Homo sapiens: one gene and its partners. The protein of the gene in region 4 purifies or fractionates together with the protein of the main gene of each other region. This does not show direct contact. Each region holds a gene or a part of one and is shown on either strand. Other genes may lie near its edges. The genes, in order: RPL36AL, NOL6, CHD8 and IKZF5.

The links.
Region 1: the proteins of IKZF5 (region 4) and RPL36AL purify together in Homo sapiens (affinity purification with mass spectrometry; 2 studies listed by BioGRID and IntAct, with this or other methods). This does not show direct contact.
Region 2: the proteins of IKZF5 (region 4) and NOL6 purify together in Homo sapiens (affinity purification with mass spectrometry; 2 studies listed by BioGRID and IntAct, with this or other methods). This does not show direct contact.
Region 3: the proteins of IKZF5 (region 4) and CHD8 purify together in Homo sapiens (co-immunoprecipitation; 3 studies listed by BioGRID and IntAct, with this or other methods). This does not show direct contact.

The regions. Positions count from the first base shown.
Region 1 is NC_000014.9:49,618,007-49,625,370, reverse strand, and holds RPL36AL (ribosomal protein eL42-like), read left to right. Parts: upstream 1-4,744; 5' UTR 4,745-4,809; intron 4,810-6,230; 5' UTR 6,231-6,266; coding exon 6,267-6,587; 3' UTR 6,588-6,841; downstream 6,842-7,364. Other genes in the region: MGAT2 (alpha-1,6-mannosyl-glycoprotein 2-beta-N-acetylglucosaminyltransferase precursor), read right to left, coding at 2,759-4,102.
Region 2 is NC_000009.12:33,470,916-33,478,660, forward strand, and holds the start of NOL6 (nucleolar protein 6), read right to left. Parts: upstream 3,010-7,745; 5' UTR 2,928-3,009; coding exon 2,874-2,927; intron 1,823-2,873; exon of another isoform or gene 1,594-1,822; intron 1,498-1,593; coding exon 1,291-1,497; intron 1,206-1,290; coding exon 1,089-1,205; intron 1-1,088. UniProt on the Homo sapiens protein: Part of the small subunit (SSU) processome, first precursor of the small eukaryotic ribosomal subunit.
Region 3 is NC_000014.9:21,397,103-21,404,125, reverse strand, and holds part of CHD8 (chromodomain-helicase-DNA-binding protein 8), read left to right. Parts: intron 1-462; coding exon 463-673; intron 674-913; coding exon 914-1,109; intron 1,110-1,622; coding exon 1,623-1,790; intron 1,791-1,989; coding exon 1,990-2,169; intron 2,170-2,612; coding exon 2,613-2,723; intron 2,724-3,054; coding exon 3,055-3,251; intron 3,252-3,513; coding exon 3,514-3,713; intron 3,714-3,818; coding exon 3,819-3,975; intron 3,976-4,055; coding exon 4,056-4,145; intron 4,146-4,420; coding exon 4,421-4,524; intron 4,525-6,173; coding exon 6,174-6,303; intron 6,304-6,724; exon of another isoform or gene 6,725-6,833; intron 6,834-7,023. UniProt on the Homo sapiens protein: ATP-dependent chromatin-remodeling factor, it slides nucleosomes along DNA; nucleosome sliding requires ATP. Acts as a transcription repressor by remodeling chromatin structure and recruiting histone H1 to target genes.
Region 4 is NC_000010.11:122,991,796-122,998,818, reverse strand, and holds part of IKZF5 (zinc finger protein Pegasus), read left to right. Parts: intron 1-147; 5' UTR 148-193; coding exon 194-326; exon of another isoform or gene 327-797; intron 798-2,642; coding exon 2,643-2,825; intron 2,826-4,095; coding exon 4,096-5,039; 3' UTR 5,040-7,023. UniProt on the Homo sapiens protein: Transcriptional repressor that binds the core 5'GNNTGTNG-3' DNA consensus sequence. Involved in megakaryocyte differentiation.

The DNA of each region.
Region 1 (7,364 bases), on a different chromosome or scaffold from region 4:
TTTTTTTTTTTGCCTCTGGAGTTTAAAGTTTCCTTATGGAGATAAGTTTTGTGATTCCTGTAATAGATGTGTATGTTTTCTATTTGAGAGTTAAAACATTTGAGAGTTAAAACATTTAGTTTTAATACAACCTATGTATATATACTTCTGTGTTAAATTTTGCTTTGTCATTAATAAAATTTAAAAATATTCACTAATTGTGTTTGTCACACAAAGTAATTCTCAAGAATGCATTTAACTGGAATTATAAGTACATGTGTGGGGGGTAGAATTTCAAAACTGTTTCTCAGTCTCACTAAGTAGGACATATTTAAGCTTGAAATAGAGCTTAGAGGGGAAAGAACTTTACTAACCAATATTAATCTAAACAATTACGATACAAATTCACCAGATAAAATGTAGTACTTTTCATCAGCTCTATATTTTGTCACACAAACTATATATATTTTTGTTACATAAAGTATATATAATAGATTTAGTTATTTAGTAATGATTTTCAAAATTCAATTTTGAAGTATTTCTTAGAAGTTATTGAAATATTAAAACATCTTGTGGTTTTATAGAAATTTAAGAGTAAAACTGGAATTTTTAAAATCTGGCAATTTGCTCTGATAGGAAAATTGCCTTCATTACATTATTACACAGAAAAACAAAAAAAAGCCAGTGTTTCCTAATCACTTTCTTTTTTTTTAAGAGATGGGTCTTGCTATGTTGTCCAGACTGGATTCAAACTCTTAGGCTCAAGTGATCCTCTCATCTCAGCCTCCTGCATAATCAATTTCCTTTATAACACCTAAAATGTGAGGCAAAGAGAAGATCCTAACAGGTTTTTTTCTTACAAAAAATTTTAGGGCAGCCAAAGAAAATGAAAGGAAGGAAATACAGAAAGGGAAATATTTGTTGATTTAATCACTAACCCCAAAGCCAGGAGCTGATCTATTTGTTTCAAAAACAGCTACTACTTCACACTCTGGCCTTCTTAGCTCAGTCCTGGAAATAACCTAATTTTTTAGTTCTTTGAACTAGTGATGTCAGGTCAGAGTACCAGAAATAGGTACAAAGCCTCCTGATTCACCCTTATTTATAACCCCCAGGCAAAATCTTGCACCAGACTGGGCCGTGGGTAAGTCTAAAGGTAGCTCGTAAAGCAAGAGAACTATTTGCCTCACCTTAGATAAGCATATGTGCTCTTAAACTACTATGAATCTTAAATTGATGCAATAATTTTGAGACTGCCATTTAATAGTTACAAGTTTAAGTAACTTTTTTTTTTTTTCTTTAGATGGAGCCTTGCTCTGTTGCTCAGGCTGGCGTGCAGTGGCACGCTCTAGGCTCACTGCAACCTCTGCCTCGAGACTCAAAGGATCCTCCCACCTCAGCCTCTCAAGTAGCTGGGACTACAGATGCACCACTACACCCGGCTAATTTTTTGTATTTTTAGTAGAGATGGGTTTTCGCCATGTTGCCCAGGCTGGTCTCAAACTCTTGAGTTCAAGCAATCTGCCTGCCTCAACCTCCCAGAGTGCTGGGATTACAGACATGAGCCACCACACCCAGCCCGTAATATCTTTACACAGAAATTAGTCTTTTATGAGAAATTCTCGGTTGAATGCAATTACAAATTAAGGGAAACTTCTATAAACGTCTACATTAAATATGGAGCAAAATTTAAGCCTGTTTCCTATAATTTTCTGTATCTGTCCTTTTAAAACGTATGATTTAAGTTAAAGCTGGCACTAGAAAGTATTTCACTTTGGCATGACTGAACTTTGTATCATTTCTGGCTTTCAAAAACAATTTAGGCTGTATTTCCCTTACACAGCAACTTTTTATCATTCATTTTCAATGCCTGGGTAATTTGAAAGCCAAACAGTTTCTTGCACAGGGAATGCATTGTCATAAGCTGGGTTTTATTTCAAACTCAATTATACAATGTAGCAATAGTAAATATTAAAATGTAATGCTAACTCAAAACTTGTAGAATGCCTTCACTGAATTTTGGTATAAAGAGTAAACAAAACTTATTCTGCAAAAGGATTAGGAACCTTTTTATGCAAAAATGAGTATTTTATTTTGTCAGCACTAAAAGAAAAAAAAAAACAAAACCACTGTATTTCTACATTGAGGTGAAAACAATGTTTAAACTTTCTTATCAATCAAATACATTCCAAAAGAAAGTGTGTTCTATGAAGGTTCCAAAACACACTCAAAACACAATAGTACAGGAATCTAATACTGAAAATGACTGTTCTGACAGGGTGTTTAACAAACATAACTTTTAAATTATTAAACCAGTGAAGCAATCCCTTCCTAATAAGTGTGTCAAGAGAGTGAAACTGGGTTTGTTCCATTAATACCCTAACAATTTCATCGTAATACTTTTTACTGCTATGACAGTTTTAAATAAATTTTGCTGTACTTAAAATAGGTTTTGAAAGTGGAAAAGTGTACAAAGTTTCAGATAAAAAGATTAATAAATGCAATTTAAATAAAATTTCCCCTCTTCTCTCATATCAACAATAATCAATTTTAGCAGATAACAGATTGAGCTTTAAAACCCTACTCCCAAAATGAAACCTTCAGTTTTAAATCTTAATCAGACATAACTGGAAAAGATTACTATGTATTTGGACACCTTTTACAAGATTTTGTTTTTGTATTAAAGCAGAAACCAGTTCCTAAACTCTTTTATTCAATTGTATGTCCTGTTTGGACAAATATCAAAAATAGAAGACTGTCGCTTTTGTAACTGTGATTTTCACTGCAGTCTTCTATAACTTTTACAGAGTTCATGGTCCCTAATATCTCCCCACCCTCCATTTTTTCTAGGTGGGGAAATGGCTACCACAGTAAACTTTTCACTGATAGTTAGAGTTTCTGGAAACATGTATTGTTTGTTATTATTTAAGAGTGACTCAATTTGGGCACTCTGAGTGGATGGTCTACAGGTTTTCTTGTGATGCATACCACAGTCTCCAGCATGAAAGATCCTAGGAATTTGAGGAACCAGCACTTTCCAGAATTTTGGAAGACAAGATACAGTCAAGTATTGAAGAGTCCAGTCCCAGTTATAATCATCATAAGTACAGAAAGTGTCTGTGCACTCGATCAGCTTCTGATAGGCATTCCGGGTCAAGGCTAGACCCATATTGTGCTCTGTGGATTTCCAAGTTTTCACATCTACCTTGTCAGCCATGCCATAGAAACTGCGACTGGCACTATAGGTCCCCAGGGAGAGAACATCACATTCAGGGCACTCTTGCTGCTTCAGTTTCCACATCTTTTTGAAGACATGGTAAAAGTCTGGGGCTAAGTAGTGATCCTCTTCTAGGAAAAGTATAAGGCCAGCATAATCTCGAAGAATTTTCACTCTTTCCCACACAAAATGCAGCTTCCACCACCAGTGATGTTTGGTCTGGGAGAATTTGGCCTCTCTATAATGGCCGAAGGAGTCGGGATACTCAGCATTGATGCACCCCAATTTCAAAGCGGCATTCTTCGGCAGGTCTCTGGGACAATCTCTAGGGTCACTACCTGGAAACTCGTTAGGGTACAACTGAATGCTGAAAGGAAAGAACACCTGCAGAACCGGACAGAAATTCACCCCGGCGATCAGCTGATTGATCTCGGTCGACCAGAAGTCATGGCTAAAGATGACGAGGACGTTGTCAATTCCCTGGGCTTTTCGAAGTGAGTCCAGCAGCAGTCTGAGGTATTCGGGCCGGTTATGCACCTGGACCACCAGCACCAGCTCCCGGGGGGCCCAGGTGCCAGCCTTATCTACATTCCTCAGGGTCTGATCAAAGTTCAGCTGGTACACCAGGGACCGGTACCGCAGCGTCAGGTTGTCCGCCTCGGGCTGGGGGACCGCCGGGACCAGGGAAGCCGCCGACACGTTGGAGACCCTGCGGATGCCCACAGCCACAGAGGGGTGGTCCCCACCGCGGCCGCCGGCACCCCGCGCGGGTTCGGCGTCCAGCAACGGTGGGGCGAGGGCCTCGTTCTTCCTTTGTCGCCCATTGCTGCTCCAGAGGACGAAGCCGCAGGCGGCCACCACGAGCGTCAGGATTAGCACCTTCCGTTTGTAGATGCGGAACCTCATGGTCTCCAGGGCCGGGAGCGCAGGCGGGCGGGCGCGGAAAGGAGCAGCTGCTTCTGCACGGAAGGGGCGGGCGGGCGGCGGCCGTCGCCTTGGCCTGTCACGGTCGGAACTGGCCCCCGCGGCTGCCCTCGCTAACTCATCCCGGGCCCCGGGGGTCCTGGGGCCCGAGACCTCTCATTTACCCCGCGCCGCCTGCGCTCCACACATCCTCGCCTGGCAGCTACAGCTCGAGCATCGGCGCCGCCGCTAGGAGCCGCGGCTCGGCTTCGTCTCCGTCCTCTCCATTCAGCACCACGGGTCCCGGAAAAAGCTCAGCCGCGGTCCCAACCGCACCCTAGCTTCGTTACCTGCGCCTCCAGCGGCCCTGCGTCCTCTGCGCTCTCATCCTTACAGGGGCCCTAGACGGCCAGAACTGAGCGACGCGGCCTCGCCTCACTCCGGCGGGGACCGTTATGACAACCCGCAACTGCCCCGCGGCACACCGCGGCCCTCCGGCCCACACCCCTCCGGCCCGCCCCTTAGACCGTTGGTTGGTGCTTTCCAGACGCGACCGAAGGCGCCTGACCGCCGTGGCCGGCTGCCTATTGGTTTGCAGTACTGTCGCTCAGGTGCAGTTCCCACTTCCGCCTGTTTCTTCCCTTTCCTGTTAGGCGAGAGCTGCGAAAGGCGAGAGCTGCGAAGGGCCAGGTGTCGGGCGCTGTTTCTCGGTAAGCTAAGAACGAGGCTGTAGCGGCTCCAATAGGAGCCTCCCTTGCTCAGAATCCTGGGTAGGACTAGGCCTTCTTAGGAAAGGGAAGGCGAGACCTATGGCCCTCGCCGGCCTTAGTTCGAGAGCAGGCTTCTCCCTTCAGGAAAAAGGTCTCAGGCATGGCGGCTATAGAATCGCGGGGCGCGCCGGCTTGATAAGGACACGTCAGCCCTCGAGGCTGCTGACGGGTGACTGTGCTTCGGAGGGGAAAAGTGATACTACGCTGATGTGGTTCTCGTAGAAGGAACGGGGCGGGTCGTAACCGTAGCTACAACGTCGCGCGCTGCCCCAGCCATTCTCTAGAGCTGGAAAATGGAGGAGGTGGGTGGGGGGAAGGGGGTCAAAGAAACTCTGGTCCTTAACTTCCTTTTCGGAAGAAAATTAGATGAACCGCACTTTTCTTTTGGAGCAGTCACAATAAATTAAACTCATTTCGTACGGAAAACGGACTGTATTGGGCCTCCTAAAGCTGCTGCTGTCGGTTTTCGTGAGTCTTGTTCTATATGAGAAAAGAAGAATGGCTCGGAGCATTGTTAATTATTTGAGATGTGCAAAATTTGCCGGGCCCAGAGAGACAGCAGTATGGGACTTCAGACACCTCCCCACTTAATGCCTGGCATTTTATTCCTGACTAGCTGCTTCACCCATTATGTCCGCGTTCCTGGAATTTGTCATGAAAAGAATGATGTATAGCCAATCAATCGCTTGTGTTATTTTAATGTAAATTCTTGGTAGACAATTTAGGAACTGCCATTTTTTCCTCTAAAAACCCACTTGCAACTGCTGCTACTCAGGGCATTTTGAATCTGTGCTCTGGGTTGCAATCCTCAAACTTGCCCCAAATAAACATTCTACTTATATGAATTGTGCCTCAGTTCTTTTTTTTTTTTGAGACGTAATTCCGCTGTTGTTGCCCAGGCTGGAGTGCAATGGTGCGATCTCGGCTCACGGCAACCTCCGCCCCTCCCCACCCCGCCCAAGCGATTCTCCTTACAGGTATGCACCACCACCACGCCAGGCTAATTTTGTATTTTTAGTAGAGACGGGGTTTCTCCATGTTGGTCAGGCTGGTCTCGAACTCCGGACCTCAGGTGATCCGCCCTTCTCGGCCTCCCAAAGTGCTGGGATTACAAGCATGAGCCACCGTGCTCGGCCTTGCCTCAGTTCTTTAGGTCGACAAATTAGTCCTCCAGTAATTTAAACGAAGTGTTTCAAAAAGGTATGTACTTGTATGTGCGTTTATTCATATGGAAAAAGAGTACGTGGTGGATTTATATATTACTCATTTATGTGTACGGTTTTCCTGTATATACTTGTATAGCACTTTCACTTTTCGGAATGTTTAACGTCTGCTATCTTATTTTAAATATTTTACTACAGTTTTCATCATATAGACAAAACAGCCCTGCTGCAAAGATGGTCAACGTACCTAAAACCCGAAGAACCTTCTGTAAGAAGTGTGGCAAGCATCAGCCTCACAAAGTGACACAGTATAAGAAGGGCAAGGATTCTTTGTATGCCCAGGGAAGGAGGCGCTATGATCGGAAGCAGAGTGGCTATGGTGGGCAGACAAAGCCAATTTTCCGGAAGAAGGCTAAGACCACAAAGAAGATTGTGCTAAGGCTGGAATGTGTTGAGCCTAACTGCAGATCCAAGAGGATGCTGGCCATTAAGAGATGCAAGCATTTTGAACTGGGAGGAGATAAGAAGAGAAAGGGCCAAGTGATCCAGTTCTAAACTTTGGGATATTTTTCTTCAATTTTGAAGAGAAAATGGTGAAGCCATAGAAAAGTTACCCGAGGGAAAATAAATACAGTGATATTCTTACGCAAACTTTTTGTGGTTTTTACTTATAAATAGAATTCCATGTTTAGTGTAGTCCCACCTCAAACTTTACTAACAAGTTTATATATGTATGAAGGGAAAATACTACTTTACTACTTTTTGTTTTCTGGTCAATTTCAAATGTTGAATGAATTCATAAACATTGAGCAGCTTAGAAGGATCTTTAAGATTTTGCAAGAGAAGGAACAAGATAACGCTAGGCTTGTGTATAGCAGGCTGGGTTGGGCAAAGGATGGAAGTTGGGGGATAGTAAGAGCTGACCAAATATTCTGTCTAGTAGGGGCCGCTAGCCAGGTAATGTGTTTCCTGTTACACTAGTCAGATTTAGTACTCAACAGCCACGTGTGGCTAGTTTATTGGACAACACAGATGTAAAACATTTCCACCGCAGAAAGTTCTTTTGGACAGTACTGTTAGAGACTGTGGCCTTGAATATAAAAGGATAGTTCAAAATTGACTTCACACTAAAGTTCTCAATCTAGTGAAAGTCCAAGATAGCATAAACTGTTTTTTGAACCTCTTAGAACACTCTGGGAGGTACTCAAAAAAAAATTTTTTTTTGAGACAATCTGTCACTGTAACCCGCACTGGAGTGCAGTGGCACATTCATGGCTTACTGTGGCCTCTCAGGCTCTGTAGCTCTGTAGGTCCTGCCTTAGCCTTGGAGTA
Region 2 (7,745 bases), on a different chromosome or scaffold from region 4:
TCTACTTTTGACACAACAGCCGGAGTAAATTTTTCTAAAACTAAACTTTTTAAGGCTGGAAAAGTGAACGTTTTAGGCTGGGCACGGTGGCTCACACCTGTAATCCCAGCACTTTGGAAGGCCAAGGAGAGCAAATTACCTGAGGTCAGGAGTTCAAAACTAACCTGGCCAACATGGTGAAACCCCCTCTCTACTAAAAATACCAAAAAAATTAGCCGGGTGTGATAATCCCAGCTACTCGGGAGGCTGAGGCAGGAGAATAGCTTGAACCCGAGAGGTGGAGGCTGCAGTGAACTGAGATCGCGCCATTGCACTCCAGTGTGGAGGACAAGAGCGAGACTTCGTCTCAAAAACAAAAACAAAAACGTGAACTTTTAAAAGTTAGAGGGCATCACTGTTCTGCAAAATAAAATCCAGCAGTGGCTCCCCATCTCACCCAGAGCAACAGCCAAAGTCCCTACTTCGGGACACAATGCCCTGCATGATATGCTACTTTTCCCCATCACCTTTCTGAACTCATCTCCTTCTGTATTCCTCATTCATTCCAAGGAATGTAACTGGAACATTCCTGCCTTTGTGCCTTTGTACTGGCTGTTCCCCCTTCCTGGAATGCTTTTATTCCCTTAGATATCTATATAGCTGACTCACCTACTTCAAGTCTTTACACAAATGTCACTTCAATAAGGCCTACTTTGTGAACACCCCCTTTAAACTTGTAAACCACTCCCATCCTCTAATACTCCCAATCCCCTTACATTGCTCGTCCTACTTTTTCCTTTTTCCAGTGTTTACCACATTCTAACATTGCCATAGAGTTTACCTGTTATGCTTATCTATTAACTATAACCTCAGCATTACAGCATAGGCTATTATTTACTGATATATCCTAAGAACACAAATACTGCAAGGCATGGAAGTACTTGCTGAATGAATACACAAATGACCACGCTCCCAGCTAAGCTTCCTTGCTGTGAGAATGAGCTCCCTGCACCCCAACCCTTAAACAGAGTAACAGCAAGGCCCCTGTTTGATATACCCCCACTGGAGGTCTCTCTTGGGCTTCCCAGTTCCCCAGGCCACTTGCTTACCTCTGTCTCAGGGACTGAGGGCACCCTCACAACCCGCTGGTTGACCTCCCGTAGGAAGGCATCAATCCGATCCTTCTTCTTCTCTGACAGCCTTACTTCCTTTAGTAGCTCCTCTACCTGTAAGAGAGGGTAGAAGACAGTCCATCAGCCTCAGGGTCCCAGGTACACACCTCGAACAAAAGCTGCAGACACTCAACAGTACCTGTAAACGAAGCAAGCTGGAGTGGAACAAGATCTCAGTCTCCCGAAGGCGATTAAGCTCCTCATTGGTAGGCTCCTTGTACAGTTCTGCCCTGCTGAGCTTCACTGGCTGCAGGAGGCCCTTCGCTGGAGGTTCAGCCAATGTACGCTTCCTGGAGGATGCTTTCTTCCCCTCTTTGCCTGTGCCTTCCAGGGCTGGTTCCATCACCTGTGGCCAGTGAGGGAGAAGCCATTTTGAGGTAATAGGTATCTAGCATCTGCTGCCTAAAGTGCCACCATGATAGGTTGTGGGTAAAAGCTTCACCTGCTCTGTCCCTCTTTTGAGTAGGAGTCAGATTTTGTAAAACTCAGGAGAATCGTTACTTGGATGAACATCACTGAGCGCTGAGCCGAAAATTCCTTGAGTTAAGAGCTCTCCTGTCTACCTGACACCACAAGCATGGAGCTCTGTTTGGAATTGGTAGTGATAGAAGCTGACTGGGCCCAGGCTGGACACGGTGGCTGACGCCTGTAATCCCAGCAGTTTGGGAGGTGGAGCTGGGCGGATCAGCTGAAGTCAGGAGTTCGAAATCAGCCTGGCCAACATGGGGAAACTCCGTCTCTATTAAAAATACAAAAATTAGCCAGGTGTGGTGGCACATGCCTGTAATCTCAGCTACGCGGGAGACTGAGGCAGGAAAATCACTTGAACCCAGGAGGCAGAGGCTGAAGTGAGCCGAGATCGTGCCATTGCATTCTAGCCTGGGCAACAGAGCAAGACTGTCAAAAAAAAAAAAAAAAAAAAGAAGCTGACTGAGCCCTGCCCTAAGTAATGCCCAGGCCCCTTGTATTTTCAGGAAGTTTCCTCTTCTGCTGATATAGGCCTGGGACTTCTCAAATGTCTTTCCCATTCTCGCTCCAACCAAATCCTGCCAGGTTCCACCTCCTCTAGGAAGACCTGACTGCCTCAGTTTACACTAAATACTCACTGATGGAAGGAGCTAGAACCGACTGGACCCCAGAGGACACATTTAGCAAGTCATTAAATCCTCAAAATAATTCTTGAAGACACTTGAAGTCCCACTATTCACTCGAGGTTCCACAACTGGTACACCCGTACTATGAGCAGGCTTCAAAGGCAAGCGTGCAGGATCCCAAACCTTTTCCCCTACAGCCGTGGGCCCATCCGCTCCACGATGCCTCTCATCCCAGAGAGCCTTACTGGAGCGCTCCAGGAGAGGCACCGTATGCCCTCCGCTACAGCGGGGAGCACAGAACTGGACACAAATTCTGTGGAGGAAGATCCCGCTTATCGTCAAGGACCACCAAATAAAAGAAACGACCCAAGTGTGGGTCTCTTCAACTTTGAGGTGCAGAGCTCCAGAAGAGAGCAGAGGCTCTACCGGCTTCACTGCTTCTAACCAAATACTGCCAGGTTCCATCACCCCTAGCAAGCCCTGTCTCAGTGCCACTGGCTGGAAACATCCTCCAGAATGGGCCGCCGGCATGGCTTTCACCCGCAAGCTGTCAGATCACGCCATCTCGGGCCCTGCAGCCAAGGGAGCGCACATTGAGCCTCTGTTCCTCCCCGATGGCTCAACCCACCTCTGGCTCTCCAGTCGCTCCGCGAAGCTGCTCTCCAGCTGGCGCCGGCCCCATCACTCAGGGTCCAGCACTCTCCCGCACTTCAGATTCTAGCCGGGTCTATACCTCATAGCTTCCCACGTGGGCGGAAATGCCTAACTCCAGGCCCAAGTCCAGCCCACCCCAATTCCTCAGGACTCCACCCACTCCAGAGCTATTGGATTATCAGTCGATTACTCGCTTGCCATTGGCCGGGCAGTCTCAAGGCCCGCCCATTAGGGGAGGGGACAAACGGGTTTCTGTGCTTTACGGCCTCTTCGCGACGCTAGAACGGAAGCCTGCCCGTAGCTAGGCCTTTGCTTTCTTTTCCTCACTTCCTTCGCGTGGCTGCAATCGGGAAGGGCGGAGCTAGTTTGTTCCTTTTGGTCAGGTTTGTTTACAGCAGTTATTCCTCCCTTTTTCTTTATTTGCTACACCTTATCAGTTAACAAATCTTGTCAGTTCTACCTCCAAAACATACCTTGAATTTATTCATTTTTCTGTGTCTTCACTGCCAGGTTTAGCCCGTCACATCATCTTGTTCCCGAATTATTGTTATGACTTTTCTCCAGTTTTTACTTATTACTTAGCTTATTACAATTTCAAGTAATTTAGTTATTTTTATTTATTTATTTATTTATTTATTTATTTATTTATTTATTTATTTTTGGAGTAGTCTTGCTCTGTCGCCCAGGCTGGAGTGCAGTGGCACGATCTCAGCTCCCTGCATCCTCCCTCTCCCAGGCTCAAGCGATTCTCGTGCCTCAGCCTCCTGAGGAGCTGGGATTACAGGCAGGTACCATCACACCCGTCTAATTTTTGTATTTTCACTAGAGATGGGGTTTCCTCATGTTGCCTAGGCTGGTCTCAAACTCCTGACTGCCAGTGACCCGCCCACCTTGGCCTCCCGAAATGCTGGGATTACAGGCCTGAGCCACTGCTCCCGGCCTATTTTTAAACTATTAAAAATTTAAAACAAATGTTGCAAGAATAATATAATGAATGCGCATATACTCTTCACCTAGATTCACTTAGTGTTACTATTTTGCCAAGTTTATCTTTACCTATGTATTTACATATTATTTTGCAAAACCATTTGAAAACCAATCACACATCTCCCTAAATACTTAGGTATGTATCTACTAAGATCAAGGACTACCTCTTATGTAAGCACAGCCCGATTATGAAATTAAGGAAATTTAATCGTGATTCAATACTAGTATACAAATTCCATCTTTAAATTTTGTCAGTTATTCCAGTAATAACCGTTATATGTTTCATTTTATTTCCTAATGCAGGATCATCTAAATTCAACTATTACCATATAATATATATATATATATATATATATATATATATATATATATTTTTTTTTTTTTTTTTTTTTTTTTTTTTTGAGAGAGAGTGAGTGTCCCTCTGTTGCCCAGGCTAGAGTGCAGTGGGTCGATCTCAGCTTACTGCAACATCCACCTCCTGGTTCAATTGATTATTGTGGCTCAGCTTCCCAAGTAGCTGGGATTACAGGCATGCGCCAACACACCAGGCCAATTTTTGTATTTTTAGTAGAGACAGAGTTTCACCATGATGGCCAGCCTGATCTCAAACTCTGGCCTCAAGTGATCTGCCCTCCTCAGTCTCCCAAAATGCTGGGATTACAGGGGTGAGCCACCGTGCCCAGTCTAAAAATTTGTATTGAAGTACAATATACATAAGGAAAAATGTACATATCCCAAGTGTAAAGCTTGAATACTAACAAACCAAACATACTCATATAGTCAGCTCCCAGAAAATAAGCAGAACATTTCCTGCACCTTCAGAATCTCCCCTCATGCTGCCCTCTAGTAACTCTGCCCCCAACAATCACTATTCTGACTTCAAACAGTGCAGGTCAGTTTATACAATAGCTTTTTTATTATTTATTATTTATTTATTTATTTATTTTTTGAGACAGAGTCTCACTCTGTCGCCCAGGCCGGAGTGCAGTGGCACGATCTCGGCTCACTGCAAGCTCCACCTCCCGGGTTCAAGTGATTCTCCTGCCTCAGCCTGCCAAGTAGCTGGGACTACAGGCGCCCGCCACCACGCCCGGCTAATTTTTTGTATTTTTTAGTAGAGACGGGGTTTCACCGTGTTAGCCAGGATGGTCTTGATCTCCTGACCTCATGATCCACCCGCCTTGGCCTCTGAAAGTGCTAGGATTACAGGCGTGAGCCACCGCGCCCGGCTATGCGATAGCTTTTTAAGGAAGTTTCAGAAGAGCGGTATGTCCATTTTCAATTCATTTTCCACACAGCTGCCAGAATTAGTTTTCTAAAATAGAAATTCTATCATGTCACTTCCTTTTAAAAACTCATCAGTGTCTTCCAATTGTACTTAAAACTAAACACAAACTTCAACTTCCATAAAGTCATGATCAATATGGCCCTTCACTTGCTATTCCTTCTTTTTATTTTATTTTATTTTTTTTTTTTTGCGACAGAGTCTTGCTCTGTCACCCAGGCTGGAGTGCAGAGGTGCAATCTTAGATCACTGCAACCTCCGCCTCCCAGATTCAAGCGATTCTCTTGCCTCAGCCTCCCTAGTAGAGTAGCTGGGACTACAGGCACATGCCACCACACCCGGCTAATTTTTGTATTTTTAGTAAAGACAAGGTTTCACCATGTTGGCTAGGCTGGTCTCAAACTCCTGACCTCAAGTGATCCGCTCACCTCAGCCTCCAAAAGTGCTGGGATTACAGGGGTGAGCCACCTTGCCCAGCTATTCCATCTTTTTTGTGGGAGAAGAGGGGCAAGTTCTCGCTCTGTTGCCTAGGCTAGAATACAGTGGTGGAATCACACCTCAGCCTCCTGAGTAATTGAGACTACACACGCGCACCACCATGCCTGGCTAATTTCTGTATTTCTGTGTAGACTTTTGCCATGTTGCCCAGGCTGGTTTCAAACTCCTGAGCGCAAGGAATCTGCCGGCCTCGGCCTTCGAAAATGCTGGGATTACAGGCATCGGCCACTGCCTGGCCCTCATCATTTTTCTTGCTACTCCACCCCTGGTTCCCTGAGCTACAGCAACATCAGCTTTCTTTCAGTTCCTTCGTTGTATTAAGTTCTTTCCTAACTCCGGGACTTCACCCAAGCTGTTTGTTCCATTTGGAATTTTGCTTTCTTGGCTTTTTCTCCTTTTCATCTTTCACCTCTCAGCATAAATATCACCTCTGGACTCAAACCATCCTCCCACCCCAGCTTCCTGGCTAGCTGGGACCACAGGCGTGCACCACACACTCGACTAATTTTTTGTAGAGACAGGATTTCACCATGTTGCCCAGGCTGGTCTCAAATTCCTGGACTCAAGTGATCCTCCCACCTTGGCCTCCCGAAGTGCTAGGATTACAGGCTTGAGCCACTGTGCCCGGCCAAGGTCTTAACTAAAGTCCTAAAATATGTTCTCTAAACAAATATAGATATGTTTTCTTTCTTTTTTTTTTTTTTTTTTTGAGATGGAGTCTTTCTCTGTCACGCAGGCTGCAGTGCAGTGGCAAGATCTCAGCTTACTGCAACTTCCACCTCCCAAGTTTAAGTGATTCTCCTGCCTCAGCCTCTGGAGTAGCTGGGATGACAGCCACATACCACCACACCTGGCTAATTTTTGCATTTTTAGTAGAGTAGGCCACCATGTTGGCCAGACTGGTCTTGAACCCCTGTCCTCAAGTGATCTGCCCTCCTCTGCCTCCCAGAGTACTGGGATTACAGGCGTGAGCCACCACGCCCAGGCTGTTATGTTTTCTCTTTCTTTCTCCCTCCCTCCCTCCCACCCTCCTTCCTTTATTTTCTTTTTTCTTTTTTTTTTTTTTTTTTTTTTCTGAGACAGAGTGTTGCCCTGTCGCCCAGGCTGGAGTGCAGTGGCAAGATCTCAGCTTACTGCAACCTCTTCCACCTCCGGGGTTCAAGCAATTCTCATGCCTCAGCCTCCCGAGTAGCTGGGACTACAGGTGCACACCACCTCGCCTGGCTAATTTTTTGTATTTTAGTAGAGACAGGGTTTCACCATGTTCCCCAGGCTGGTCTTGGACTCCGAACTCAGGCAATCAGCCCACCTTAACCTCCCCAAGTGCTAGGATAACAGGCGTGACCGACCACGCCCGGCCTGGCCAATATGTTTTCTAAAACGTTTCTCTTATATCATCCATTTTCCTTTTAGTGCTTTTTACAATTTCTGGTTATCAATTGTCTCTCCTTTTGTTTTACTTTTATTTATAAATTTATTACTATTTTTTTAGAGACAGGATCTCACTGTCACCCAGGCTGCAGTGCAGTTGTAGCTCACTGCAGCTTGGGATACCTGGGCTCAAGTGATCCTCCCAAGTAGCTAGGACTACAGGTATATGCCACCATGCCCAGCTAATTTTTAAATATTTGGTAGTGGTCTTGACCTCAGAATCTCAAACAATCCTCCCTCATCAGCCTCCCAAAGCACTGGGATTATAAGCATGAGCCACTTGCCCAGCCCAGTTGTCTCTTTTTGCCCTTGACTGTGAATACGTGAAAATGAGGACCATGTGTACATGCCCAATACCTAGCACATTGTAGGTACTTAATAAATGTTTACTGAATGATTGTGACCATAGTCAATCCTTTCCGTCTTTCCTTTAACCATTGTCTCCCTCAAATTTTATGCCCCAGTTGCATTGAACTATTTGGGAGTTTTCTTACTCTAATTTGATTTATTTCCTGGGCCTTTGACCTTGCTGCTCTCTTTGCTCAGAATGTTTTGATTGATAAGATTTACTGGAGAAATGGAGCTTGTGCTAAGTGTTGAAGCATGGTTTGAATTTGAATTGACAGAGGGGAAGAAGCAGCATCA
Region 3 (7,023 bases), on a different chromosome or scaffold from region 4:
GAACCCGGCTGATTTTTTTTTTTTTTTAAGGTGGAGTCTCGCTCTGTCACCCAGGCTGGAGTGCAGTGGCGCAATCTCAGCTCACTGCAACCACCACCTCCCGAATTCAAGCGATTCTCCTGCCTCAGCCTCCTGAGTAGCTGGAACTACAGGCCTCCGCCACCACACCTGGCTAATTTTTGTATTGTTAGTAGAGACGGGGTTTCACCATGTTGGCCAGACTGGTCTCGAACTCCTGACCTCAAGTGATCCACCTGCCTCGGCCTCCCAAAGTGTTGGGATTACAGGCATGAGCCACCGTACCCAGCCGATTTAAGACTTTTTTGTGCTGAAATTCTGTGTGTGAGAAATGTTGGTCTTAAGTCAAATTACATTTTTTTCCTTTTGCTTTCTTAGTTAAATAGACTACAACCTTAATATGGTTCACTGGATCTCAACATAATTTGATTTTTCTTTTGGCAGGTGCTGAAGAAAAAATCCTAACAGAATTCCGTGAAGCTTGCCATATTATACCTCATGACTTTCACCTGCAGGCCATGGTTCGTTCAGCCGGCAAACTGGTTCTTATTGACAAGTTGCTTCCAAAGCTTAAAGCTGGTGGCCATAAAGTTCTGATCTTCTCTCAGATGGTGCGCTGCCTAGACATCCTAGAGGATTATTTAATCCAGAGGAGGTAAGAAAAGAGTCATCCTAGCCTGTGGTTACTCTGTCCTCATAAAGCAGCAAAAAGTAGGAGGGCCTGGATTTAATTAGAGTTCACCAATTGCAATAAGAGAAGTTTTTAAGATTCTCACTCTCAACTTGGGTTTTTGACCAGCTTTGATATGGGAGTACTGGTATTGATCCTAGCCTGCTGTTTTGGTCTCCACTTCTGCTTAGCCACTTACATTTTTTTTCTGCGATTCCCATACAGGTACTTATATGAACGTATTGATGGGCGAGTTAGAGGCAACCTTCGACAGGCTGCCATTGACCGCTTCAGCAAGCCTGACTCAGACCGCTTTGTCTTCTTACTGTGTACCCGGGCTGGTGGACTTGGTATTAATCTTACAGCTGCTGATACCTGCATCATCTTTGATTCAGACTGGAATCCACAAAATGACCTGCAGGTAAAGGAATTCATTGTCTTAGGGACTAACTACCTAACTTGGGAGATTTTTCAACAAGAATAGGATCTTTTAGAAAGACCTTTCACAGAGTTTGGAATTGTTTCCTTAGTTAAGGGTGGCAGTTAGGTCAGGGAATCAGCAAACGTTTTCTGTAAACGACAAGACAGTAAATGTTTTAGGCTTTGTGAGCCATCGAGTCTTTGTTGCAACTGCTTATCTCCAAGTCCTGTAGCGCAAAAACAGCCATAGATAATATGTAAATGAGTGGGTGGTCCCACCTGTGTCCCCATTGAACTTTATTTTTAAAAACAGATGTCCACACAGACTTTAGTTTGCTGACCCCTGGTCTACATGATGGGGTGATAATTTCATCTTGAAATTGACTCTTGGTTTTGAGTTGATCTCATGGCTGCTCTATAGAGGTGAAAGAATCATAAATTGGTATTTTGTATCCTTTCCCTTGCTAATTTTATGATATCTTTCTCCTTTCCTTTCGTTTTTATTTTAAACCAGGCCCAGGCACGATGTCATCGAATTGGGCAGAGCAAAGCTGTGAAGGTGTACCGCCTCATCACTCGTAATTCCTACGAGAGAGAGATGTTTGATAAGGCCAGCCTCAAGTTGGGGTTGGATAAGGCTGTGCTTCAATCCATGAGTGGTCGGGATGGCAACATTACTGGAGTGAGTCCTCTTAGTTTATAGATAAGTTTGTAGTAGATCATTGTGATAGAGGGAAACAAAAGCTATTTGTACACAGGGATTTGACTACCTTGTTTGGATTCTCAATTATTATTTCTTAAAATATAATAGCTAAAATATTATGGCATGGTTAGATATTATTCTCTTGATAGTCTTTTCATCTTTCTATTGGTTTTTACAGATCCAACAGTTCTCTAAGAAGGAGATTGAAGATCTTTTAAGAAAAGGAGCATATGCAGCCATCATGGAGGAAGATGATGAAGGCTCCAAGTTTTGTGAAGAGGACATTGACCAGATCTTGTTAAGACGAACTACAACCATCACCATTGAATCTGAAGGAAAAGGTTCCACCTTTGCTAAGGCATGTTCTGTCTATGCCAGAGGCTAGAAAAACACAGAGACCGGAATCTCTAGGATTTAATTATGTTTTTATGCTGGGGATGGTGGCTCATGCCTATATTCCCAGCACTTTGGGAGGCTGAGGCGGGCAGATCACTTGAGGTCAGGAGTTCGAGACCCAGCCTGCCCAACATGGTGAAACCTCATCTCTACCAAAAATACAAAAATTAGCCAGGAATGGTGGCTTGCGCCTGTCGTCCCAGCTACTCGGGAGGCTGAGGCAGGAGAATCACTTGAACCCAGGGGGTGGAGGTTGCGGTGAGCGGAGATCGTGCCACTGTACCCCAGCCTGGGCAACAGAGCAAGACTGTGTCTCAAAAAAAAAATGTTTTTAAAACATAATTGCTGATTTTGCACCACTTAAAAAAAAAAGTCAGCTTTACCTCTGCATTTGTTTTTCTCTAGGCAAGCTTTGTTGCTTCTGAAAACAGGACAGATATTTCTTTGGATGACCCCAACTTTTGGCAAAAGTGGGCCAAAAAGGCTGACCTAGACATGGATCTGCTCAACAGCAAGGTGAGTTTCTTCTTTTAGGGAGGAAGTATCGCAGAAGACCACACTACTTTCGGGAGTCTTTACAGCTACTCTGATTATTTGATGCTAATTGTGATTTATGATGGTGTATTGTATACAAGGGCTGTTGTGGATACTTTCTACCTAGGAGGCCCCAGAAAAGTAGTTGCTTTCTGAATAATTTTGCTTTCTGTAGATTATTTTACATGTCATTTAAAAAAATCTCTGAGTATCTACACGTTACATCCAATGTTATTGTAATCCCTAATTGTCTTATTCTTTTCCCATGAGCAAATCAGGAAGAGAATTACTTCTCCTTCTGTTCTCTTCATAGAATAATTTGGTAATTGACACACCTAGAGTACGAAAACAAACGCGCCACTTTAGCACTCTGAAAGATGATGACCTGGTGGAATTCTCTGATTTGGAAAGTGAGGATGATGAGCGGCCACGCTCCCGCAGACATGACCGTCATCATGCCTATGGGCGCACTGACTGCTTTCGGGTGGAAAAGCATCTCCTGGTATATGGGTAAGACCCCAACTTACCATTAGAGGTAGTGCATAGTGCATCTCCATCCTGATAGATACTCTTGGTTTGCCTTTCAAATTGGGGGCTATGATCAAAGAAGGGATAATGTGAAAAAATATTTGCCTTGGAGGGAGTTTGTTCTGTTTATTCTGTTACCATGTTTTTTAAGATCTTTGTTTCACACCTTTTCAGAGACATGATTCTGAGGGACAGGGGACTGTCATTTCTCAGAAAAATGTTAATATAGTTTTCTGTTTTTTAGTTGGGGACGATGGCGAGATATTTTATCTCATGGACGCTTCAAGCGACGTATGACTGAACGAGATGTGGAGACCATTTGTCGGGCCATTCTCGTGTACTGTCTTCTACACTACCGTGGGGATGAAAATATTAAAGGCTTCATCTGGGACTTGATTAGCCCAGCTGAAAATGGCAAGACAAAAGAATTGCAGAATCATTCAGGTAATTATCAACTCTTTACTTTATGTTTTTCTATAGGTTAATCTAATCCTTTTCAGGTCCAAGGGTTTTTCTCAATCCAAGTCTTTGATGTCTCCCCTTTCCCAGGTCTATCTATCCCTGTGCCTCGTGGACGCAAAGGAAAAAAAGTAAAGTCACAAAGCACTTTTGATATCCATAAGGCAGATTGGATCCGGAAATATAACCCTGACACTTTGTTCCAAGATGAAAGTTATAAGAAGCACTTGAAACATCAGTGTAACAAGTAAGCATAGAATTAGCAGACATTTTCCACCTCAAACTTCTACAGTGTTACTGAGCCAGCTCTTCCTCTGTCCTTTCTAGGGTACTGTTGCGGGTACGAATGCTATACTACCTGAGGCAGGAGGTTATTGGAGACCAAGCAGAAAAGGTGTTAGGGGGTGCGATTGCCAGGTAAAATTCTGCTATATTTTTTTGATTTATGCCCTACCTTATTTGAGGGAAGATTGGTTTGCTTATTTCATTTTATGCTATCTTTGGGATACCTGATAATTTAAATCTATATATCAGGTCTTTAATCTTATACTTGACACTAGTGGGAGGAAATAGGGTAGATGCATGAGTATTTAAATTAATGGATACAGGAAGATACCTATAATAACCTTTGCAAGGATTCTCACTTTAATTTCCTGCATTTCTGTGCTGACTCTGCCCTCTTATACCTTTAGTGAGATTGACATATGGTTCCCAGTAGTGGATCAACTGGAGGTTCCAACAACTTGGTGGGACAGTGAGGCTGACAAGTCGCTGCTCATTGGAGTCTTTAAACATGGTACGTATCTTCTCCTATTCTACTCCTTTCCGACTGAAGATTTATGTTCACGGATGGAACATTTAGCAAAATGCTCCTGAGAAATAACTCAGTTATCTGATTGATCTTCAATAAATTTGAGTAGGAAAGTAGTTCTTAAATATCCAGAGCAGAGCAGTTAGTTCCTATAAATAGATGTTCAAGAAGGGCCAGATGGATAGGTAAATCTCAAGGTAGGGAGCCTCCCATCTGTTCTCTAATCACTGTTAGCAGTGTGTTACCGCACTGTATGCTATGGTAAGTTAGGGTCCCATGAATCAGGGCAGGTAATATACCCCAACTATTGTTAATAATAATCACACTTAATTTATATGACTTTCCTCTGGATGTGCACTAGCATAACAATTGCAGCAGATCATCTTGTCGCAGTTGTATTTCTGGGTGAGTAGGCAGAGGGAAGGCTCAATAATGTCACCTCAGAGGCAAAGCACCACCTGCAGGGTGGACTCTTTCTGGATGTTACAGTCTGAAAGAGTACGGCCATCCTCCAACTGTTTGTTCACAAATATCAGATGCTGCTGGTCAGGTGGGATGCCCTCCTTGTCGTGGATCTTGGCTTTGACATTTTCACTGGTGTCACTCGGCTGGACCTCAAGGGTGATGGTTTTGCCTGTGAGGGTCTTTACAGAGATCTGCATCTCTATGTCAGCTTGGCTGCCTCACTAAAGAGAAAGAGCTGAAAATCTTCTGTTTTTCTACATGTCCCATTTGTCTAAATGTTCAGCAGTCTCTCTGATATAGGTATGAGGCAGCAGTTTTTGAGTGAAATAAAAGTAGAGTATAAGAAGGGAGACTGACTAGCCAAAACAAAAATGCAGTGGGGGTAAGAATATTTCCTTACTCTTATAGCAGTTTTGCCTAATGCCAAATCCCAGGCACTAAAAACAGTAAGCGTTAACTTTCAGCCAAGTGACTTTGTGAATTAGAATGTCTTTTTTTTAAAAGAATACTTTTTTTTCTATAAAATAAAAGTAATGGCACTTAATCTACATCTTTTTTGAGACGTTTAATGGGATAAATAAAATTGCAGGTGCTGGGCATGGTGGCTTATGCCTGTAATCCCAGCACTTTGGGTGGCCAAGGTGTGCAGATCAGGAGATTGAGACTATCCTGGCTAACACGGTGAAACGCCGGCTCTACTAAAAAATATAAAAAATTAGCTGGGCGTGGTGGTGGGCACCTGTAGTCCCAGCTACTCAGGAGGCTGAGGCAGGAGAATGGCGTGAACCTGGAAGGCAGAGCTTGCAGTGAGCCAAGATCGCACCACTGCACTCCAGCCTGGGCGACAGAGTGAGACTCCATCTCAAAAAATAAATAAATAAATAAAAATAAATAAAACTGCAGGCAAGGCATGGTGGCTTACACCTGGAATCCCAACACTTTGGGAGCCTAAGGCTATCAGTCACTAGTTAAAAACTCTTCATGATTCTAAATTGCTATAAAAATGTTAAATATAGTAATAAACCCAGTAGTTGTCCAAGATAACATTCTAACTTTGTTTTCCATTATGAGCAATATAGAACATATTCTAATTATTCCAGCAGCATATAAAGTAAGCATAAAGGCAAAACAAATCTCATTTTCTTCAACTATGACCCTTTTTCTTCTAGGCTATGAGAAATATAATACCATGAGGGCAGACCCAGCCTTATGTTTCCTAGAAAAGGCTGGCCGACCAGATGACAAAGCAATTGCAGCAGAACATCGAGTGTTGGATAACTTCTCTGACATAGTAGAAGGGTAAGCATTAGTATTTGTTCTTTTAAAACTCTAACTTGTGCCGTGAAATAACTCTAGCCTTGACTGAACCCAATGGGATTCTTAATTGTAATTATACTCAAAAGTGATAGATCCTTAGCAAAAATAGGACCAGCAGAAAGGACTCCATAAACTGCATAAACCACATGTTGCCATAAGATACATCTGAGGGTGAAAATGAATGTCACTTGTAAATGGCTTATTTGATGTTCTATTTGGTTTGGTTTACAACACTCTTCTGTACAGCTACAGTAGCTGAGAGGATAACTGGTCTCTTGAAAGATAACAGCCAGCAGCTCTCATACGTTGCTTCTGTGGAAGAGCCTTAGGCGCTTTCAGCCCTGGTTTATCATCTCCCAATGGTACCTGACACATAAAGGTACTTATTTTGCCTGAAAACATGTCCCAATGATGAGTTGCCATGCTAATACTGAGCCACCAGGTAGGGCAGTGTTGCCCTGGTTTGGGTGCCAGTGAGTTTAACAAAACTTCTCACATGAAGATCTGAGGGGCATGTGAAACAGTTGGCTTAATGAATACCTCCCCATTCCATCATGACTGAGAAATTTCTCTTTGACGATCACACCCTCAGTTTGCCTAGTGTAGGACCCTCAAAGGAAATTGGGTTATTTATTCATTGCAAATCGTTTATGCCACCTGTCTGCTCAGAAGAACACAGTAATAAAAACAAAAAAGCGTGAA
Region 4 (7,023 bases):
ATGTCTTTAGTTCACCAGTAAGATTATAAGATGCTGAAAGGCAGGCACTGTGTTTTCTCTTGCTTTATATAGTGTCTTGCACAAAATAGCTTTTGTCATTTGTTTGCTATGTACTAGATCTCCCTAAATAGTGTAAAATTGTTTCAGTTTTGTTTTCTAGGTCTAACAAACTGTAAATGTTAAAAAAGCAAAGATGGGTGAAAAAAAACCAGAGCCTTTGGACTTCGTGAAAGATTTTCAGGAATACCTGACTCAGCAGACCCATCACGTGAACATGATTTCTGGATCAGTTAGTGGGGACAAAGAAGCAGAGGCTCTTCAGGGAGGTAGACTCATTTTAATACTACTAAGTAATTCACTTTTTATACACGTACTATGATTGCGTGTAGCTGTTACTGTGAAGACCACTGCGCATTAATGTGAATCATTCTGTTTTTTCTAGAAAGATACAGGGCATTTTTTCCCCCTTTTTTAAACATATCAGACTTCTGCTGGAGAGTACTTAACATGGTCTGGAGATGCATTATGGTCTTGTTGGAAGGTTAGGGGCTCCAAATACCCTTCCTGTCCTCCAGTTTTTATGAGCTACCATTAGACACAAAGAACCCAAAGGGGATTGGAATATCAGCTTCACTATACAAACCATTAGGCCATCAGGAAATCTGGATTCGACCTGAGATAAAAATAGGGGTTTCAGTTTCTTCTCTCTTAAAATGAAGAAAGGGCTGACCATGTTTACCTATCCAAGAAGAGAAATGAAAATAGAGAAAGTGGTGACCTCCTTGAGCCTGCTAGAGGTAAATTTTGTCTAATTTGCTTGCCACAAAAAACTGGAATTTATTCCTAACCTAGCTCGGAGGTCAGCAAACTATAGCCCGTGGGCCCCATCTGGACTGCTGTTTTTGTATGGCCTGCAAGCTAAGAATGGTTTTTACATTTAAAGATGGTTTTAAAAGTGTCAAAAGGAGAATAATGTAATGATACATGAAAATTCTGTGAAGTTCAAACTTGAGTCCACATAAGTAAAATTTAATTGGAACACAGATATGCTCATTTGTTTACATATTTTCTGTAGCTGTTTTTGTTTGTTTTGCTAAAACAGCAGAGTTGAGCAGTTGTGGTAGAGACCATATGGCCCACAAAGCCTGAAGTATTTACTATTTCATGCCTATAGAAAAAGTTTGCTGACCCCTGACCTAGATAGTCTGGGTACGGCCTTATAATGCAGGGACTAGCAGCAGGGACCAGGCATCACCCGGGAGCTTGTTAAAAATACAAAACACCAGACACCACCCCAGATCTACTGAATTATAATCTGTGTTTTAATAAGATCCCCCAAGTAATTCACATACACATTAAAATGTGATAGTGACTGGCTTGGGAAAGCAGTGGGAGAGAGGAAGACACTGAGCCTTGTCCCTCGAATGCAGTGTAGCCCTCTTGGATATTGGTCTTGTCTCAACCAGCAGAATCACTTCTCCTAGTGAGGAGTGAGGAACCGGTGAAGCAGGGGGCTTGAATTGTGCATGCCAGGACTGTTACCTCCTGAAATGGAGTAGACCTTTTCCCATGAAGCTGTAGGAATGGAAATTTCCCTCCTAACGCACAGATTTCCAAACAGGATTCAAGAGACCAGGGTTGTAGTCCCAGCCATTTGCCGATTTTCCTGATTATGAGCATCAGGTCTCTTCAGTTTCTTTCTACAAAAAAGTAGTCAGATTAGATTAAAAGCAAACAGCCAAACATGTTTTATCTCTGAGATTCTTAAAACCTTAACCTTCAGAGGTATCAGGGACGATACTTTCCTTTATGGGCTTAATTAGAATTTTAAGATCCTAAATGGAACAGAGATCTAGAACGTACATATAAACACTGGGATGTGGAAAACTTATTCACTGCTTCAGACTAAAATAAATAGAGTTAGGGTTTTGGAGATTCTTTGACTGCCAGTTTCAGTTGTAGAAATAGCGAGGGTGCTAAACACCTGTGTGTAACTGTGCCATCACTCTCCAGTGAATCTCTTTATTCCCCTCCCTCCTCACCTGTTCACTTCTTCAAAAACATGTTAAGGACCAGTACAATGTGTGTGTAAGTAATTTTGTTTTCTTTGTTTTTGAGACACAGTCTTGCTCTGTCGCCCAGGCTGGAGTACAGTGGCACAATCTTGGCTCACTGCAACCTCTGCCTCCTGGATTCCAGCGATTCTCATGCCTCAGCCTCCTGAGTAGCTGGGACTACAGGTGTGCACCACCATGCCCAGCTAATTTTTGTAATTTTTTTTTTTTTTTTTAAGTAGAGACAGGGTTTTGCCATGTTGGCTAGGCTGGTCTCTAACTCCTGGCCTCAAGCTATCCCCCCACCTCTGCCTCCCAAAGTTCTGGGATTACAGGTATGAGCCACTGCACTGGCCTTGTGTAAATAATTTGAGATCCCCCAATAAAAGGTTCTCAGAATATAATACAGAATGTATTACTGCTTTTGTATAAAATTAGCCTCAGTTCAGAAAGTCTGTTATAAAATGGACTTAACTTTTGTGAGAAGTGAACTGTCAATTTATAAGATTTTTCAACCACTTAAAACTGAAATGCTAAATTGAGTTGATTCTGAGATGCATAATTTCTTTTGCGGTACTTTGTTTATAGCTGGAACAGATGGTGATCAAAATGGACTTGATCACCCATCTGTTGAAGTTTCCTTGGATGAAAACTCAGGAATGTTAGTAGACGGGTTTGAAAGGACCTTTGATGGGAAGCTTAAGTGTCGGTACTGCAACTATGCCAGCAAAGGAACAGCCCGGCTTATTGAACACATCAGAATCCACACAGGTAATGGAAAGACAGCTGGAAAAAGCATTTCTGTGAGGGCAGGAGAGGGGCCAAGGGGGGCAGGTTGGTTTGTCATAGAAATAGTTTTAATATTCAAAAATGAAGGTTTATGTAAAGTTCGAATAAATGGGAAAGTTACTCCATTTTTCAAAGCAACAACATAACAACATACAAACAGGTCAGAAGTGATGCCCTTTGTAGATCCTCTCCTTCCTTAGCCGTGTTTCCCTCTTGATCCAAATAATCTCTCAACATCTGCCTGCCTCTCAGATTGGGAAGGAATAATGCTAAAGCACTGCGATGTGATAAAATGTTTTAATCTTTATCCTATTACGTTTCATTTGCCGAAAGGGGGAAAGGTTTCAGAAAGTATACAGTTGCAGATGGTACTGCTAATCCCAGATCTCACTTTAGCTGTCCCTTCTGAGAAACTTTCCCAACTACATCTGCCCTCTGCCCAAGACCAGGTCAGACGTCCTTCCTGTGTGCTTCATGCATCCTGTGCTCATTCATCACATCATTGTAGCCTGAGAGCCTCTTGAGGACAGGGCAATTGTGACAAGACCATCTTTGTACCCCCAGAGCCTAGGAGGGCATGTGACACATACTTACTAGATGAATGACTCTAAATCTCATATTCCAAATGTTTATTTCACATAATTGGGCAGTCTTCAGTTAACAACATTAACTATAGTTGTTCCTTCTGGCAGCTGAAGAGTAGGAAGATGGAGGAGAAGCACTAGCAATTTTGAAGGGATGCTTTGCATAACTCAGACTAGCAAGCCCATTTCAATTCTGAGCTTTCTATTTCATATAAGGACTTTAAAAAAAGCTTTTTTTGTATTTTTTTTTCTGTGAGCAAAGGGTATGCATATGTGTGTGTGTGAATATGAATGTATATAAATGTATACATGAATATATAACTGAGACATACTTTTGATAAACTCATTATTATGTAAGACTATTACTAGAATATTTCAATTGTACTGTTTCTTCTCTCTAAATGCATTCGAAGCCATAACAGTTTTTATACTGTATTGACTAATACAACATCAATGCATATTTCAGGTTGTTGCTGATGAGTTCTTAAGCTTTATTTCAATTTGTGGGTTTATTTACAAATTTTAACAATCTCATATGCTATGCAAATATGACTTTCTGAAAGCATTTTCTTTTTGATCAATTTCCAGTTGTCCAATGAATGGACAAGCAAAACTTTCCATAAATGAACTACTCTTGTAGTTTCTCCATCATTTTTCTTTTGAAACAGGTGAAAAACCTCATCGATGTCATCTTTGTCCATTTGCATCTGCTTATGAGCGTCATCTGGAAGCCCATATGCGTTCTCATACTGGAGAAAAACCATACAAATGTGAATTATGTTCCTTCCGCTGCAGTGATCGAAGTAACTTGTCCCATCATCGAAGGCGCAAGCATAAAATGGTACCAATTAAAGGTACTAGGTCTTCCTTAAGCAGCAAGAAAATGTGGGGGGTTTTACAGAAGAAAACAAGCAATCTGGGCTATAGCAGAAGAGCACTAATCAACTTAAGTCCACCTTCCATGGTGGTTCAGAAACCAGACTACCTTAACGATTTTACCCACGAAATCCCAAATATCCAGACTGACTCCTATGAAAGTATGGCAAAAACCACACCAACTGGTGGCCTTCCAAGGGACCCCCAAGAACTCATGGTTGATAACCCTTTGAATCAGCTCTCGACTCTAGCAGGGCAGTTGTCCAGTCTGCCACCCGAAAACCAAAACCCTGCATCCCCTGATGTAGTTCCCTGCCCTGATGAAAAGCCTTTCATGATTCAGCAGCCCTCTACCCAAGCAGTAGTTTCTGCCGTATCAGCAAGTATTCCTCAGAGCTCCTCTCCCACAAGCCCAGAACCTCGGCCATCCCATAGTCAAAGGAACTATAGTCCAGTGGCAGGTCCAAGCAGTGAGCCAAGTGCCCACACGAGCACTCCCAGCATAGGAAACAGCCAGCCAAGCACCCCAGCCCCAGCCCTGCCGGTCCAGGACCCTCAGCTTCTGCACCACTGCCAGCACTGTGATATGTACTTTGCAGACAACATCCTTTACACTATTCATATGGGATGTCATGGGTATGAAAATCCTTTTCAGTGTAATATATGTGGATGCAAATGTAAAAACAAGTATGATTTTGCCTGTCATTTTGCAAGAGGGCAACATAACCAACATTGATTGAAAATAGTCATATTTTACTTAGTTTTGCTGTTTTTGTGGTTTGGTTTTTTTTGTTTTTTGTTTTGGTCATCCCTAATAAAGTGTCTGCTAATTCAAGGCTTATACATTATATTTATAGAATATAAATTTGTCAGTGGAATAAAATTTCCCCTTTTTTTCATAAAAATCTGGTCAGGGTCATTTATATATTAGAACAGTTAGACACATTGGTGTCTCTTTTTTCCTTTCCTTTCGACATTGGAGAATTGGAGTGCAGTCATAATCTTACAAGATGTTCATTTGAATTTCTCACATTTATGGTCCATAAAAACTTCAAGGCTTATCCATACTTTTGATGTTTCAATATGCATTGAACTGGATGTTATTTCTGCCATATTTCAAAATGGTAGAATAAATTACAGAATTTATTACTACTCATTTCAGTGTTTAGTACAGAAATTGCCTTAAAAATTGCTATTAATTGAAATATCATTTAGTTCACATTCCTTAAGTTGAATCGGTAGTTTCATTTCAACTGATAATAGTAAAGCTATTTCAGTTTAGTAAAAATTTTCTTTTTTCCACAAGAGGAAATGTAAAACAGTTAAGACTTGAAATTGAAAATTCTTTTAATATTTAAAATAACTTGTTTATTCAATGTCTAAACACATGTCAGTTTTCCACTGGATTTTTATTTTCACAGGTAAATACACTAGAGTGCTAGATGCCTTTTTCCCCTGTCAGTTTGACTTTCATTTAAATCCTTCATTCTGATATCATTACTGTTAGGTGAGGTGGATAACTATAATGAGAATCTCTTATTCTTCCTATTCCTTTGATGACCAAAGAGATAAAGTGAAGTCATCCTTATTATTAAAATGCAGCCTCCAAACAAATTTCTCAAGATTCCTTTTCCTTCCTTCTATCCATTTTCTGCCCATAATTTCCAAGAAAAGGTGGGTATGGAAACACATGAGAGAATGTGATAGTGAAGTCATATTTACAAAACTGAGAACATGTCCAAAATGGATTCTTGTCTCCTCTTCAGAATTAGCCATTTAAAATATTTTCTGTGACTTCAAATTGTAATTCTTATTTGCAGTTTTACCAGTCTTCATGTACAGTGACGAAACTGTGTAGAAACTAAATCATCGCTTTAGTAAGAAAGGATAAAAAGGTGTGGAAGTGAATATAAAATGCATCTAAACATGACATTTAATTTGTTTATAAAAATAAGACTTACTAAATATAGAGTAATTCATTTTGAATAGGAGGCTATTGTTTTTATATTGTGTAATAACTCACGTACTCTGAAGAGAGCTTGGTCAAACAATAAAATACATTGTTACTAACTTGGTTTCTTTTCTGTGTACTTTGCAAAAATTCTATTTTTAATTTTGTTCATATGTTGAATGTGCCCCTAATTGGCATCTTAAAGAGAATAGTAAGCATCTATTAACCAAAAAAGAACTCTAATAGTAAAGGAAAGGGAAATATTGGTGGTATGTACCCACAAAACCCCCAAGTGCCAAGTTAATGGAATCTCTGCTTTCCCTTTCAGATGCTAGAAAGCCACTGTAATGAGTTCTTGCAGTTTAGCATCCAGTCTAAGCTACTGCATTGTTTAAAGAGCAGCATCAAGGACACTTTCTCCAAACTGGAACTCTCTTCTTTGTCAAATCTTGTACTTTAAAATTCTACAATTCTGTTACATTGTTGTTTAAATCACAGACTGCTCAGATCCATTTTACTGCAGTAGTTTCCAAGTGTGTAACTTGGCTTTAGTATTTATCAGTTGCCAGAAAGAAACAGGTTGTCATTTGGAAGTTTTTGTGGTTATTTTTTCCCATTTTTATTCTTCAGATAAAAGCAGTACCCCAAAATAGAAAATGAAAATTTTCATGAAACAAAGAGAACTCCCTTGTTAAAACCAGCTTATTAACTCTGTATTCTGTCAAATGCATTTTTTTCTAACAACTGACCATGGATGTTGTGAAGGTGC